Linked DNA regions of Homo sapiens: region 1 is linked to region 2. The links come from fine-mapping of genetic effects on gene expression. Tissue or cell type: whole blood. Region 2 holds a variant in brackets; the other region holds the start of a gene. All regions are shown on one strand. Distances are from middle to middle.

Evidence for each region. PIP is the estimated chance that this variant, and not a neighbour inherited with it, causes the effect.
Region 1: it holds the start of FAM43A, and the variant in region 2 is fine-mapped to the expression of FAM43A in whole blood (TOPMed, PIP above 0.99).

The regions. Positions count from the first base shown.
Region 1 is chr3:194,683,663-194,688,808 of GRCh38, reverse strand. FAM43A (family with sequence similarity 43 member A) reads right to left here and starts at 2,926. Exons shown (of 1, transcript NM_153690.5): 1 at 1-2,926. The coding sequence starts at 1,982. The coding sequence ends at 711. It overlaps LOC124909474, which reads left to right and starts at 1,900. Exons shown (of 3, transcript XM_047449428.1): 1 at 1,900-2,949; 2 at 3,391-3,471. The coding sequence starts at 2,556. RefSeq lists silencers at 777-1,076, 1,907-2,096 and enhancers at 1,076-1,579, 1,580-2,085, 2,837-3,196.
Region 2 is chr3:195,099,039-195,104,184 of GRCh38, reverse strand. All of the region lies in intron 3 of XXYLT1 (xyloside xylosyltransferase 1), which reads left to right. It overlaps LOC124909476 (a long non-coding RNA gene), which reads left to right. Exons shown (of 2, transcript XR_007096226.1): 1 at 1-555; 2 at 671-1,333. Among named protein-coding and RNA genes, the nearest start is that of XXYLT1-AS1, 7.0 kb to the right of the region's middle. RefSeq lists an enhancer at 348-1,547. The variant A/G (reference allele first, on the strand shown) is at 2,816.

The DNA.
Region 1 (5,146 bases), 420 kb after region 2:
ACACAGTATCATGGAGTGAGATCTTTTGAGCAAGAGGAAGGGTGTGTGTGTTTCTAAAGGAAAACTCCTTTTTAAGATATTGGATGTCTTTAACTGTAAACAAAACGCGACTCTCTTTCATCTCCCCCCACCCCCCAAACAGTTATTTGAAGAATTTGGCAACATTTCAGGGGTCTGAGTCTGAGGTAAACAGCCAGAATTCTTGCACCAAAAAGAACCAAGGGCTAAAGGGTTGCATTAAAGCCTCAAACACCTTGAGAGCAAATTTTTTTTTTTTTTTAATGAGATGTCAGTGACAGCGCAGGGCCGCTCCCAGGGGGTGGGAGGAGGAAGTGAACCCCTCCTCCTCAGGCCCCAGCTGCCCCACAAACAGGAAACTGGCCAGGCACCTACGGCCTGAGACTAGGAACTTCAGCCAACCTTCCCTCACCCGCATCCCAGAGGGGTGCCTCTCTCTCCCTCCTGGCGGGGTTTTCCCCTCTCAAATCTCCCCGCATCCCCACGCGCAACAGAGCCAAAAGTGCTGGGGCGGGAGCGGGGGCCGGGAGGTAGGGGAAAGCGGTCGGGGGAACGCTGGACCTGGGCTCCAAGTGTAGGTCTGGGCCCCAAATGCCCCATTTCCCCCTTCCTGGGGGCGGGCAAGGGACAGGGAGGTTGTCGGGACCACGGATGGGTAGCCACGGTGGAGCGCCGGCGACGCGCGGAGGAGCTCAGCCCGAGTGGGGCTCGTCTGCACTGGCGCCGTCGGCCTGGCGGGACGAGTCCCCGGCGGTGGCGGAGGTGGCGTCAGGGCCCCCGCCCTCGATGGAGCTCTCGCTGCCCGTGCTGTCGCCTGACAGCAGGCGCGTCACCCGCAAGTCGGCCTGCAGGGTGCGCACGTCGTTGCCGAAGCTGAGCTCGCCCAGGTCGCTAATAAGTTGCGACAGCTCAGCCTTCATGTCGGAGGCGCTGCCCAGCAGCAGAGGCGGCGGCCCGGCCCCCGGGCCCAGGGAGCCCCCGCCGCCTCCTAGCGCCTCCCCACGGCCATTCTCCAGAGTATCCAACAAGTCCCCGCACTCAAAGTGCATGGCGACCACTAGCGCACGCTGCGCCTCGGCCTCCTCCTCTGCTGGATCTCCCTCTGCCGCACGGTTCTCCTCCTCCTCCGGGCAGCCCTCGGGTTGCTCCTCTTCCTCTTCCTCCTGCAGCTCCTGCTCCAGCTGTTCGCCGAGCAGGTCCTCGGTGATGGAGCCAAGCTTGGGCGCGCTGCGGCTGCGCTCCACCGGCGGTTTATAGCAGCAGGGTCCGTGTAGGAGCAGCTTGCGCAGCGGCACTAGCGGGATGGTGTGTGCGCCCACCAGCTCCTGCTGCTGGTGACGCGCGTCGTCCCGCCGCTTGAGGCGTTTAAATTCCGCCAGCGCGTTGGCCGACGTCTGGTAGAGCAGCAGGGCCATGGCCTGCGCCTTTTCGGGCTTGGACACCAGCACGGCGTGGCAGCGCAGCATCACGGCCTTGTGCTTCAGCTCGTGCCGGTACACCCAGGCGAAGACCTTGGGCAGCCGCGCGTCGGCCACGCAGTAGGTGACGCGGTGCAGCAGGTAGAGGTGGCCCGGGCGGCGCAGCGCGCGCTCCTCGGCGTGCACCATGCGGATACCCTGCGCACTCACCGTCAGCTTCATCTTGGTGCCCTGACGGCCCGCCTCGCTCTTGCTCCAGATCTTGCCCACAGCAAGGTCGGTGCAGCCGTCGCCGCGCGCCTGGATGGTGGTGGCATTGCCCAGGTAGAGCACGGTGTAAGTTGGGTCCTCGCTAGTGATGTGCAGCTTCTTGCGCTTGGAGCGGAACATGCTGCCCACCCGGCTAAGCGCGCCTTCGGGGCACGCCCGCGCCAGCGAGCTGAGCGCCGAGTAGTGCAGGCTCACAGCGTAGCCCTTGGGCTTGGACGCCTGCCGCGGCGGCGCCTCGGCCAGCAGCTCGAACTTGTGCTTCTTCCACGGCAGCATCTCCGGAGGGCGCCCCGGCGCAGCTGGGCGGCGGCGGCGGCGGAGCGCCGGGTGCGAGGCCCGCTGAGCCACCGGCCCCTGCCAGGCTCGGCCCGGGCAAGATCGAAGAATAAAACTACTGGGAGCGGCCCTGTGGTAGGGAGTTGGGGGGAGGGGAGCAGAGAGAGTGCTTAGGAACCCCGCAGGAGGTGCGGGTAAATTCTCTAAAAAAGAAAATATTCAGCTTCGAGTGTGCAAAAAAGGTTGGTGCGGGGGAGACACGCGCGCACACAGAATTACCCCAGCCTGGGCAAGGGCGAGAGCAAAGAGTCTCAGGCAAGCAACAAAATGCAAGGGAGAAAGAACGAGCGTAGAGTGGAAAATGTCAGGAAAAAAGCTAGAAGCGCGCGTGCAAATAAAGAGAGCCCCAGCAACAGCACCCGGGATGGTGCAAGAATATGCAGGAACTCCTCGGCGAACGTGAGGTGGGTCCCCTAACACACACAACCCTCAGGACTGGGGCCAAAACCCGCGGAAACTCTACAGCGAGTGTGCCTAGGGGCCGGTGCTCCCCACCTCCGAGGGGTGCTGGAGATGGAAAGCCCCCCGTTTGGGCTGGTCTCAAGTCAGCAGCTCGCCCAAAGTGCGGTCGGATGCTGGGTCCGGCTGGCCGCGGCGGGCCCCGCGCAGCAGTCCCGCGGGGACTCACTGCATCTTCGCTCCGCCGGACGCCGGGGACTCGCGCTCGGCCCGCTCAGTGTCCGGGCTGGCCTGGCCGAGACGGCGCTGGGCTCCGAGAACAGGGGACGGGCATGGCCGGGTCCGGGAACCGCCGCTACCTCATTTCTTCCCTCCGAGGCGGTGTCCAGCTCCGCTCCCGGGCTCTCCACGGTCTGCTGCCCGCCTTTGCAGTGCGCCCTCTCCGGTGCTGCGAGCGGCGTCCGGCTCGCCTGCCTCACATCCTTGCCGTCCGGGAGGAAGATCTCGGGTAAATATAGGCCGGCGCGAACCATTCGCCGCGCGGGGACAGGGGAGGAGCAGAGAAGAGGATCTGTTTTGGGCTCCGACTCCGGGCGGATTCCTGGTTTCTTAAAGGGACCGCGTGACAGCCATTGGTCGAGGGAGCGGGGAGACCGGTCCAATCCTCCAATTACATCCCAAATTTACCAGCATCTCTTTTGTCTATGGAAATCACTGGGACCTGGGGTTACCCCGCAGCAAAAAGATTTGAATCCTGACACTCCACCCCCCAGGCTGAATTGCCACTCACTGAATACATGTATGTCTAGATCGAAACTTCTGAGGGAGGTGGCAGAAGATGAGATTACAGATTATAATTTCCTGTACAAAAAGTTTGGGAAAATAGTGGTTTCTTCCTTGTGTGACGGCTTTCTGAGAATGACTGGGTGCTGTTTAATATTATTTTCAGAATTGTATTCCATTAAAGAAAAGAGAGAGGCACAGAAAACACCAAGGCTTATCTCTCACTATCTTGAGCTCGTATTCACAGGTAAGCAGCAGACAGTGTAAAGTGAGGTGAGTGGTAACATGATTGGGGTGACTACTGTAGAATACCGTCAATGAATAAGGCTTTTCCCCGTCCGAACCCCGGCAAGACCCCCTCCTGCTGTCAGGCCTCAGGGTAGAGCAGTTTTCTGAGATACACACAATTTCTAATGCTCGTGTGTCGTTAGGACTTAGTTTACTTTGGCAAGCCGGTCATGCGGTTTCATTCTATCATTGACATATTTTGGATGAGAATTCCTAGTAAAAATTCAAATGACGTTTTTTATTTAAGTGACAAATAATGCCAGGCCACCCTCCAATGGGAGTGATAATTGCATCAGTATTGCTTTTATCATGTGCCAACTGGACAGTGTAGTTGTCTTCTGACCGGCTTGACCCTTAGCCAGTAACTCATTTCTGGGCCCTTGAAACAGCCTGCTTGCCTCTATGGTATGGTCAGTCAAAGCAAAAAGACGTATGGCTGGAGTGGGATCAATGTCCGAATGATCCTGCATCAAACTCCCAGCCTGGTCCTGGAGGAGGACAGTGATCCCTTCCCACCATCCCAGTCCCCTGGGGATCTTTGATGTCTCTGGCTTCCACGCCAGGTCTTCATGCCAGAGTCACTGCAACCATACCTGGAAATTCCCTTGGGATATTCCAACAAAATAAAACTGACCCCTGCCCACCCTCTACCTTTGCCAACTTTTAACCTTCCTTTGAAATCTAACTCAATTTTCTCAGAGTCGTTGATGCTGAGTTTCCATTTAAGTTACTTTGCTGAGTTTCCATTTAAGTTACTTTTCTGACTACCTTTTGGTGCCCGGCCCTGAGCTAGGAGCAGACGGGATTCCTGCCTCCTAGTCCAATGAAGGTTGTAAACTCTACCCAACTCTGGGTTTCCACTGGACTGTGGGTTCTCTGCAAGTACCCTGTATCCCCAATATGGTACAAATAGGCACTCAGTAACTAGAATTAATGAGCAAGATATGCATGTGGACAAGAAGACAGAGTGGGCTAAATGCTATGAGAAAGACTCAAAGCACTATGAGAAGCTGGAGGAAGAAAGCATTCATTGTGACTAGGAAAATCAGAAAAGGCTTCATGGAGGTGGTGACCTTTGAAAGATAAACAGAATTTATCCAAATAGGAAAAGACTGAAGGGCTTTATGGGTATAGAGGGTAGCAAAATTACAGAAGCATGAAAATGCATGCATAAGGCCAGGCGCGGTGGCTCACGCCTGTAATCCCAGCATTTTGGGAGGCTGAGGCGGGTGGATCACTTGAGGTCAGGAGTTCAAGACCAGCCTGGCCAACATGGCAAAACTCTATCTCTACTAAAAATACAAAAATTAGCTGGGCATGGTGGTGCACGCCTGTAATTCCAGCTACTTGGGAAGTTGAGGCAGGAGAATCCCTTGAACCCGGGAGGCGGAGGTTGCAGTAAGCCGAGATCGCGCCACTGCACTCCAGCCTGGATGACACAGTGAGACCGTCTCAAAAAAAAAGAAAGAAAGAAAGAAAGAAAATGCATACACATGTAGTAATTAAGATGGAGCTTGTAACAATCAAAGAATAAACCTTCCTGATTGTGTTTTTTGGCTCTCTTACACTCCAAGGGAAGGAATGGCCTCTTCATGGCTAACTGGCCCCACAGGGTCCTTCAACCAGAGCTATAA
Region 2 (5,146 bases):
CGTCATCACCGTCACAGTGGGTGTGTGCTCCCAAAGGGCTTCTACTCATCAGTAGATTTCATGGGCCCGACCTCCCATTTTCCTTTCCCCATTGCTCCCATTCTAAACTGTGGGTCCATCTGTATGTAATGTCTAAAAAGGCGCCCAAACACCAGTTGGAAATAGTTGTTATAGGAAAATGTATTCAGAATTCCAAACAACAGACTTAAAGTGATGAACTTCTAGTGCGTCAAACCTTTCTCCCCTCGTTGGAGAGGCCACAGGGTTAGGCAGGAGCATAGGGACTCTCAGCCTGTGCTGGCCTTTCTCAGTAATCAGAAGCATATGACCCCAGCTAGTATTTTCAGCTAGTTATGCCAGGGACTGTCTTTTATTCCATGAGGTCAAAGGACACACTTGGAATTGGTCACCTGACAAGATTGCATTGTTTCTCTAATTTTTTTTTCCCTAGTTTCTCAGGGCCTGAATTTCATTCCTCTTGCCCAGTGACTTCCCCTTGATGGATTCTAAAGGTCTCACAGAACAGCACCTCTTCTGTCATTTATCTGAGTCTAGGTAAAGGCACAGCGACAGTGAATGTAAGGGCCTTTAAAAGGCTTCAAAAGACAAAGAACATGTTCCTATTTAAAATTAATTTCTCTCTTGTTTTACCTACACTGATTCTTTCTAGGTTCTGAGTGTGTGTGATTTAGGCCCATGCAGCCTCTAACAAATGCAGAAGAGATGGACGCAGGCCGCTGGTGTGGGGTGATGGACGCAGGCCGCTGGCGTGGGGTGATGGACGCAGGCCGCTGGCGTGGGGTGATGGACGCAGGCCGCTGGCGTGGGGTGATGGACGCAGGTCGCTGGCGTGGGGTGATGGACGCAGGTCGCTGGTGTGGGGGTGCATTCCTGCACTCCTGTTTTTCTGTCACAGAACCACCAGTGGCCCAGCATTAACTAAACTAGGCCCAGCCTCATGGCCTGGAATTCCAGTCTGTTATCTGGAGCAAATCAGCATTTCCGTCCAGCGTTCCTAGGCTCCCTTTTATCTGCCCCCCACAGCACTGACTGTTACTAGCGTGAGCCGCCACTTCTCCCCGTTCAGTGCAGGCTGGCAGTACGGGGTTGATTCCTTAGACATATAAAAATCTGGCAAAATCAGAAAACAGTCATTCTCACTTCACACCTGATAGAATAGCCATTGTCAAAAACACAAGAGATAGCCACTGTTGGCGAGGGTGTGGAGAAGAGGGAGCCCCAGCACGCTGCACCGTTGGTAGGAATGTAGGTTGGTACAGCCATGATGGAAAACAATATGGAAATTCCTAAAGAAATAAAACTAGAACTACTATATGACTCAGCAGTCCTTCTTCTGGGCATTGACCCAAAGGAAATGAAATCACTACCTCGTAAAGATAACTGCTCTCCCGTGCTCACGGCAACGTTATTCACAGTAGCCAAGATACGGAAAGAACCTAAATGTCTGTTGATAGATGAATAGAGAAAGAAATTGTAACATACAAGACACACACACACACACACAAAACGGAATATTACTCGGCCTTTAAAAAGAAGGAGTCATACCATTTGCCACAGCGTGGATGAAACTTGGAGGACATTATTGCTAAGTGAAATAAGCCAGACACAGAGAAAAAATATGTCGCATGATCTCACTTATATGTAGAATCTTTTTAAAAAGAGGAAAAGCTGAATACACAGCGGTAGAGAAGAAAATGATGGTTACCGTGGCCACGGCGAGGGTGAGGGAGGAAATGGGGAGATACCAGTCAGGGGATACAGCGTAGCAGACGTGTGGGATGAACGGGTCTAGAGGGTTCATGTGTGACATGAGGGCTATCATCCATAATATCGTATTCATGAATTTTGCGAAAAGAGTTTGTTTTAGGTGCTCTTGCCACACACACAAAGATGAGTAACAATGTGAATTGATGGATATGTTAATTTGCTTGACTATTGTAACCATTTCACTACCTGTGTATTTCAAAATATCATGTTGTATATCTTACATAGAATTCAGAAGACATTCATTCTATTCTGTTGGAAAACATAGACTCAGATATACCAGACAATTCTCTTTTTCCCCCTCCCCTCCCCTCCCTTTCCCTTCCCTTCCTCCTTCCATTCCTCCTCTCCTCCCTTCCTCTTTCTCTCTTCCTTTTTTTCTGTTTCTTTACTTTCTTTCTGTCCTCCCTCCCCGCATCCCTCCCTCCCCCGTCCCCTCCCCTCCCCTCCCTTTCCCTTCCCTTCCTCCTTACATTTCTCCTTTCCTCCTTTCCTCCGTTCCTCTTTGTTTCTTCCTTTTTTTCTGTTTCCTTACTTTCTTTTTCTTTCTTCCCTCCCCTCTCCTCCCCTCCCCTCCCTTCCCCTCTCCCCTTTTTTTTTCAATAGAGATAGGGTCTCGCTACATTTCCCAGGCTGGACATAAAGCCCTGGGCTCCAGCAGTCCTTTTGCCTCAGCCTCCCAGGTAGCTAGGATAACAGGAACACACCACAGCACCCGGCTCAGATGTATTTTTTGCTATATCCCAATTTCATATATTTCATCTTTAAAAGGGGCCAGATGTTATCATTTTCATTCAGGAAATATGTTAATTAGAGCTACATGTATAACTGCCATATTTTATCCAAATCTCACTGAAATATGTAGTATACAAAAGGAATGTCCCTGGGACTTACTAATGTTTTAAAATATTTATGAAAGTGATAGCAGTTGTGTGCATTTCTAGAAAAAGTAATAAATGGGAAGGAAATGGTTTTGCAAAAGAGGATGTGTTTACCCATTTCATCATCATGATGCCCTGAGAGTAAAGAT[A/G]CTAACCAGCCAGAGAGATTCTGTTTTTTCCTAATGTGATTTAAGAGATTTTGATGAAGGTGGCAGTGGGGGTACAGTGTTTAATTAACTAGTACATGTTCTCCTTAATTGCTCCCAATCAATTAAGTCGAACATTCAAGCTGGGGGTACCTGCCCAAGCGCCGTAAGGACGGCATAGCACTGGCAAGAGGCCTGGCGGCTCTGAAGGTGACATATTATGTACTTGTCATAGCCTCACTGTCACGTGCTGGGAGGTGCTTTGTGGATTACAGCAGTGAGGCTGGGGAGCTGCTGGGATTGCGCCAGAAGCCCTTCACAGAGACTGGCAGAGGCCTTGGCTGTGGGCCGCTCTGTGGAACCTATAGCTGTCTTGGAAAAGGCTAGTTATATCCTTGCAGTTGGACAGTGAAAGTATACCTGTCTAGACTAGTTCGCTTCAGTAAATTTGGACTGAGTCCCTGCTTTGTGCCAGGCACAGGGTTAGGCAGCAGGGATATCCGATATAAAAAGACACAGTCTCTGTCCCCAAAGAACTCACAGTTTAATAGGACAGAAAGGGATGTAGGATCAGTATAAACCCCACAACCATAGACATAGTCCAAGGCTTGGGGGCGAGGAGGGAGCTGAACAAAGGACATGGCCTGTGAGCTGGGTTTTCGTGACAAGAAGTTTTCTGGTGGACGAGGAGGGAGAAGGGCACCACAGCCTCAGTGAGGGTAGCGTGTGTAGGCCCAGGAACTTGGGTCTGGGTGGAGTACAGGGGAGAGTGCCGGGGAGAGTGCCAGGGAGAGAGGAGGAGGAGGCTGGCAGGGGTAGAGGCCACATCACCGGGAGCCTTATGTGTTGGGCTAAGGTGACGTTAATTCTATAGGCACTGAGGAGCATGACATTAGCCTGATGCCAGGGCAGAAGACTCTGCAGATGCCTGCCTTCTGGGGGAGGCGCTGTGATGTGTGTGCTAAATGTGTCCCTCCTTGTCCTGGCCAAAGCACACTGTCCGGTGCTCTGGTGGGTAAAACTCCTGCTGTACCTGGCTTCCATGCCATATAGGCCACACTTTCCCAGATAGGACCCCATGCTAGGTGTGGAGGCAGGAGATTCGGAGACCAGTAGGAAACCAGCCCTGTCCATCTGGCCGTCAGACATCCACAGAGGATGAATAAAGGAGGGACAGACATGGCTGGGCCACTCCTTGCCTGTCGCATGAAGCAGGGGGAACGGTGGTGGCGGGGAGATTGGTTTCAGGTGCAGGATCTCAGACAGCTTTATGCAGGGACTGGAAGTTCCAGATTTGCAAATTTGGAAGTTCCAAATTTCCACTACTTTATTCTATAGATATTTATTGTACTTTATTTAGTCTGTCTTCTTTTTTAAGTAAGACAGGGAGAATTTTTCTCTTCTCCCTCCATTTTGTGCCCAGTGAGAAACAGATCCCAATTATTGACTGAAGCTACACTTTAGAAACAACTTTTTCTTAAGAACTTTTACACTGAACAAGATTCAAATATAGTTACTGCATTTTTTTTTTTTTTTTTTTTTGAGACAGAGTCTCGCTGTGTCGCCCAGGCTGGAGTGCAGTGGCGCGATCTCAGCTCACTGCAAGCTCCGCCTCCCAGGTTCACGCCATTCTGCAGCCTCAGCCTCCCCAGTAGCTGGGACTGCAGGTGCCCACCACCACGCCCGGCTAATTTTTTTGTATTTTTAGTAGAGACGGGGTTTCAACGTGTTAACCAGGATGGTCTTGATCTTCTGACCTCGTAATCCACCCGCCTCGGCCTCCCAAAGTGCTGGAATTATAGGCATGAGCCACCGCGCCCAGCCCAGTTACTGCATTTAATTCTTCGTCAGATGGTTCTGTCTTTGCTAACTTGCACAGGGAAAGGGGCTTGTGAACACCTTTATTATGGAGAATGGATTTTACTTTCAGCTGACTTGACTGCGTCCAGGCTGACAGCACAGGCCCCAGATGGTGGTGCTGGTTTGGGAGGCACTGTAATGTGTGTGCTAAATATGTCTCTCTGTGGTCATGATGCCTGGGTGGTGATGGACACAGATCATGGCTGTCCAGCTGCTACCCCACACGTGAGTCCACGCACCTGCGCCAGGGTCAACCTCGTATGTGTGAAGCTGAGCACGTTTATTTATTTCTTAGAGTTTATTATTTTAATCTCTTGGGAAGGGAGAGGGAGAGGAGAAAATAGACCCTCTTCAACAGCAAGCGGTTGTTTGAGAACGCGGTGTCTGTCTGCCATGTCCTCGGTTCCCCTGGTACATTCCACGTTAATTACACCGTACTCTGCTACCACAGTTTTTCCTTTGGTATCCACAGCT